2 separate regions of the Homo sapiens genome follow, and region 1 is linked to region 2. Evidence: fine-mapped expression QTL. A gene starts in region 2. The other region holds a variant in brackets. All regions are shown on one strand. Distances are between the middles of the regions. Region 1 has its middle 22 kb from the start of XAGE3. Region 2 holds the start of HUWE1 (HECT, UBA and WWE domain containing E3 ubiquitin protein ligase 1).

The links. PIP is the estimated chance that this variant, and not a neighbour inherited with it, causes the effect. A credible set is the group of variants that fine-mapping cannot tell apart.
Region 1: its variant is the best candidate, but not a certain one, in a credible set for the expression of HUWE1 in tibial artery (GTEx, PIP 0.84).

What each region holds. Positions count from the first base shown.
Region 1 is chrX:52,844,753-52,847,573 of GRCh38, reverse strand. No RefSeq gene overlaps it. Among named protein-coding and RNA genes, the nearest start is that of XAGE3, 22 kb to the left of the region's middle. The variant T/C (reference allele first, on the strand shown) is at 1,663.
Region 2 is chrX:53,685,087-53,687,907 of GRCh38, reverse strand. It overlaps HUWE1 (HECT, UBA and WWE domain containing E3 ubiquitin protein ligase 1), which reads left to right and starts at 1,189. Exons shown (of 84, transcript NM_031407.7): 1 at 1,189-1,320; 2 at 1,540-1,638. RefSeq lists silencers at 1,008-1,182, 1,256-1,555 and an enhancer at 1,766-1,845.

The sequences.
Region 1 (2,821 bases), 840 kb after region 2:
CATAATGACAGGATCAAATTCACACATAACAATATTAACCTTAAATGTAAATGGGCTAAATGCCCCAATTAAAAGACAGAGACTGGCAAATTGGATAAAGAGTCAAGACCCATTGCTGTGCTGTATTCAGGAGACCCATCTCACGTGCAGAGACACACACATAGGCTCAAAATAAAGGGATGGAGGAAGATCTACCAAGCAAATGGAAAGCAAAAAAACAAAAAAACAAAACAAAACAAACAACAAACAAACAAACAAAAAACAGGGGTTGCAATCCTAGTCTCTGATAAAACAGACTTTAAACCAACACAGATCAAAAGAGATAAAGAAGGCTATTACATAATGGTAAAGGGATCAATTCAACAAGAAGAGCTAACTATCCTAAATATACATGCATCCAATACAGGAGCACCCAGATTCATAAAGCAAGCCCTTAGAGACCTGCAAAGACACTTAGACTCCCACACAATGATAATGGAAGACTTTAACACCCCACTGTCAACATTAGACAGATCAACGAGACAGAAGGTTAACAAGGATATCCAGGAACTGAACTCAGCTCTGCAACAAGCAGACCTAATAGACATCTACAGAACTCTTCACCCCAAATCAACAGAATGTACATTCTTCTCAGCACCACATCGCACTTATTCCAAAATTGACCACATAGGTGGAAGTGAAGCACTCCTCAGCAAATGCAAAAGAACAGAAATGATAACAAACTGTCTGTCAGACCACAGTGCAATGAAATTAGAACTCAGGATTATGAAACTCACTCAAAACCACACAACTACATGGAAACTGAACAACTTACTCCTGAATGACTACGGGGTAAATAACGAAATGAAGGCAGAAATAAAGATGTTCTTTGAAACCAATGAGAACAAAGACACAACATACCAGAATCTCTGGGACACATTTAAAGCAGTGTGTAGAGGGAAAAGTACAGCACTAAATGCCCACAAGTGAAAGCAGAAAAGATCTAAAATTGACACCCTAACATCACAATTAAAAGAACTAGAGAAGCAAGAGCAAACACATTCAAAAGCTAGCCGAAGGCAAGAAATAACAAGATCAAAGCAGAACTGAAGGAGATAGAGACGCAAAAAACCCTTCAAAAAATCTGTGAATCCAGGAGCTGGTTTTTTTTTTAAAGATCAACAAAATCGATAGACTGCTAGCAAGACTAATAAAGAAGAAAAGAGAGAAGAATCAAATAGACGCAATAAAAAATGATAAAGGGGATATCACCACCAATCCCACAGAAATACAAACTACCATCAGAGAATACTATAAACACCTCTATGCTTATTTGCATAGAAAATCTAGAAGAAACGGATAAATTCCTGGACACATACACCCTCCCAAGACTAAACCAGGAAGAAGTTGAATCTCTGAATAGACCAATAACAGACTCTGAAATTGAGGCAATAATTAATAGCTTACCAACCAAGAAAAGTTCAGGACCAGATGGATTCACAGCTGAATTCTACCAGAGGTACAAGGAGGAGCTGGTACCATTCCTTCTGAAACTACTCTAATCAATAGAAAAAGAGAGAATCCTCCCTAACTCATTTTATGAGTCCAGCATCATCCTGATAACAAAGCCTGGCAGAGACACAACAAAAAAAGAGAATTTTAGACCAATATCCCTGATGAACA[T/C]CGATGCAAAAGTCCTCAATAAAATACTGGCAAACCGAATCCAGCAGCACATCAAAAAGCTTATCCACCATGATCAAGTGGGCTTCATCCCTGGGATGCAAGGCTGGTTCAACATACACAAATCAATAAACGTAATCCAGCATATAAACAGAACCAAGGACAAAAACCACATGATTATCTCAGTAGATGTAGAAAAGGCCTTTGACAAAATTCAGCAGCCCTTCATGCTAAAAACTCTCAATAAATTAGGTATTGATGGGACATATCTCAAAACAATAAGAGCTATTTATGACAAACCCACAGCCAATATCATACTGAATGGGCAAAAGCTGGAAGCATTTTCTTTGAAAACTGGCACAAGAGAGGGATGCCCTCTCTCACCACTCCTATTCAACATAGTGTTGGAAGTTCTGGCCAGGGCAATCAGGCAGGAGAAAGAAATAAAGGGTATTCAATTAGGAAAAGAGGAAGTCAAATTGTCCCTGTTTACAGATGACATAATTGTATATCTAGAAAACCCCATCATCTCAGCCCAAAATCTCCTTAAGCTGGTAAGCAACTTCAGCAAAGTCTCAGGATATAAAATCAATGTGCAAAAATCACAAGCATTCTTACACACCAATAACAGACAAACAGAGAGCCAAATCATGAGTGAACTCCCATTCACAATTGCTACAAAGAGAATAAAATATCTAGGAATCCAACTTACAAGGGATGTGAAGGACCTCTTCAAGGGGAGCTACAAACCACTGCTCAACGAAGTAAAAAAGGACACAAACAAATAGAAGCACATTCCATGCTCATGGATAGGAAGAATCAATATTGTGAAAATGGCCATACTGCCCAAGGCAATTTTTAGATTCAATGCCATCCCCATCAAGCTCCCAATGACTTCCTTCACAGAATTGGAAGAAACTACTTTAAAGTTCATATGGAACCAAAAAAGAGCCTGCCTTGCCAAGACAATCCTAAGGAGAAGGAACAAAGCTGGAGAAATCAGGCTACCTGACTTCAAACTATGCTACAAGGATAAAGTAACCAAAACAGTATGGTACTGGTACCAAAACAGAGATATAGACCAATGAAACAGAACAGAGCCCTTAGTAATAACACTACACATCCACAACTATCTGATCTTTGACAAACCTGACAAAAACAA
Region 2 (2,821 bases):
GGCCGGGTCTTTCGCCTGTAATCCCAGCGCTTTGGGAGGCCGAGGCGGGTGAACTGCTTGAGCCTAAGAGTTTGAGACCAGCCTGGCAACATAGTGAGACCCCGCCTCTACAAAAAATAAAAAGTTATCCAGGCGTGGTGGCGCATACCTGGAGGCCCAGCTACTTGGGAGACTGTAGGCAGGCAGGAGGATCCTTGAGCCCAGGAGGTCGAGGCTGCAGTGAGTCGTGACCGTGCCACTGCACTTCACCCTGGGTGACAGAGTGATGCTTTGTCTCAAAAAAAAAAAATTGTAAAAATATTCAATGAAACAGTGTATCTCGAAGGGGCCCTGTACATCTCCTGAGATCATATACAAAATTTTATGTGTAAGTATATATTGGGGTGGGGGACCCATTCATTAGATTCTCAATTCGAGGGATGAACCACTGCTCTGGAGGGCTGGAATTAGAGAAGTGGAGGGTATAATCACAGTTTTTATTTCCTCGATGTCTCAGGAGTTCTTTTAATAGTGCTTTTGTCTTTAAATACTAAATTAATACATACTTTTTATTAAAAATTGAAACCTTATCGAAGTAGCTAGAGTTCCAAGTCAAAGTTCTTCGCCCCTCCAATGTCGTCCGCAGCCCACAATAATTAAGTAGGGTTAACAGGTGATCTCCCACCAGGTCCTTTTTATTCCCATGTATTTACAGATGCAGATCCTCTACAGGATCCTTGTCAATCGCACTGCCGTTCCAAATAATTAAAGGAGGAAAAAAGAATGTTTATTGAGGGCTTACTATGTGCCTGAAGTGTTTTAAGGGTTTGCTCGCGTGAACTCTGGGTGGTCGGCTTCCCACGTCGTCTCCCACCCTCCGCTCTGGGTCCAGCCTTGCCCTCTTGCCCCACACTCCCCATTCTTCACAAGGCATCTGGCGAGGTCGTTAATTTTTAAAGGTAAATCAGATCAAATCATGTTCCCTTCCGCGGCTTCCACCGTGCCTCGAATCAAATCCCAATTCTTAGCGACCCTATCATCCTCTATGGTTGCATTTACTGGGCCTTGGGTAGCTCAGGCGCGGTCCCCTGCAAGGGACCCGACTTCACCGCGGAGGGAGCTCCCTCCCGAGGGGCAGGGGCGGGGCTTCGCTTGCGGTGGGTGGAGCCCCAAATCGAGTTTGAGCTGAGCCGAAGCGAGGAGGCTTTCGACTGAGGGCTAGCGAGGGGAGCAGGGCTGGAGCAGGGCTGGAGCAGGGCTGGAGCAGGGCTGAAGCAGGGCTGAAGCAGGGCCGCGGACCCCGCACGCTCCTGCGGGCCCCGCGGAGCCATTGCGGCCGAGGTGAGCGTCTATCCCTGGGCTGGAGGGCGAGCTCTGTACGCGCGGCCGTTCTCGGTTTCTCGCGGGTGGCAGTGGCGAGGTTGGGGGGGGAGTTCCCACGGGACCCTGCGCGGAGGCGCGGAGGTGGCGGCCTTGGGGAGCCTGCGGGAAAGGCTGCTGGAGGGGCAGGGCGGCCTGCCCCAACCCTCCCTGAACCCCGCCTCCTCTCCCCTCCCCCAGGCCTCGGCAGGCGCCAGCGGAGAGCTAGCCGCATCTTCGGGGGCAGCCCGGCAGCTGCCGGCGGCGCGGCGAGAGAGCGGCTGACAGAGGGGATGCGAGGTACCGGCATTAGCCATGGCCAAGTGGCCCTAAAGAGAGAGTAGAGGCCGGGCCTTCAGCGTTTCTCACTGGTTCGAGGAAGGCGGCCTCAGAGGAGAGGGAAGGTGAGGGGCGGGCAGGCAGGCTTCGCGGGTAACTACTAGGCGTTGCATATATATGTTTTGATATCTAAATGGTACTACACACACACACACATTCATTTCGACTAACTGCTTGTTTAAAAATCTGAGAATATGTCTTGTAGATCTTCTTATATCCGGGAATCCAAATTTATGTTGGGTTTTAAACAGCTGCATTGTATGATTGTACTACAGTTTATTTAACCATTTCCCGATTGATATACATTAGCTTGTTTCTCTGTTGGGGGAGGGAGGGGACTATTACAAGCAATGCCATAATGAATGGGTTTGTGTATATGTATCATGCCATGTATGAGTATTTCTGTAGGAGAAATTCTTAGAAGAGTAACCGCTGGGTCAGGGTGTATATGCATTTTGAATTTTGATAGATTTGTCCAAATTGCCTTCCCAAAAGCCTGTACTAATTTACACTCTTTAATGTTGTGCGAGAGTGCCTATTTTTCCACAGTTATGCCAACACGTATTATCAATCTTTGTAATTTTAGCCAATTTAAAGGGCAAAAAAATCGTATGTCATTGTTTTCATTTGCATTTCCCTGATTACTGGCGAAATTGATCATATTTTTGTTTGTAAATAGGCAAATATCAATAGTTTATATAGGCAGTTTTCCTATCTATAAGCAATAAGCATTTTGAAATTTTAATAATAAAAAACCTGTTCGCAATAGCAAGAGAAACGAATAAAAATACCTAGAAGTAAACTATAAAACTTTATTGACGAATACCATAAAAGAACATCTGCATGAAAAGAGAAGGAATACTATGCTTCTGAATAAGAAGGCTCAATATTTTAGTGATGTCCATTTTTCCTATATTGGTTTATACAGTTGATGCAATTTCAATAAATATACCAAGTTTTTTTGGAACTTACTATGATTCTAAAGTTCATCCGGGGGAAAAAAATGGCTAAGAATAACTGAAAAAAAATATTTTAAAACGTAAGTAAAGATAGGGATATTTGTACTACTGGCTATTAAAATGTACTCTAAAGGAACTATTTAAATTAGAACGGACAGAACAATGCATTAGAATGGAAAAGCCCA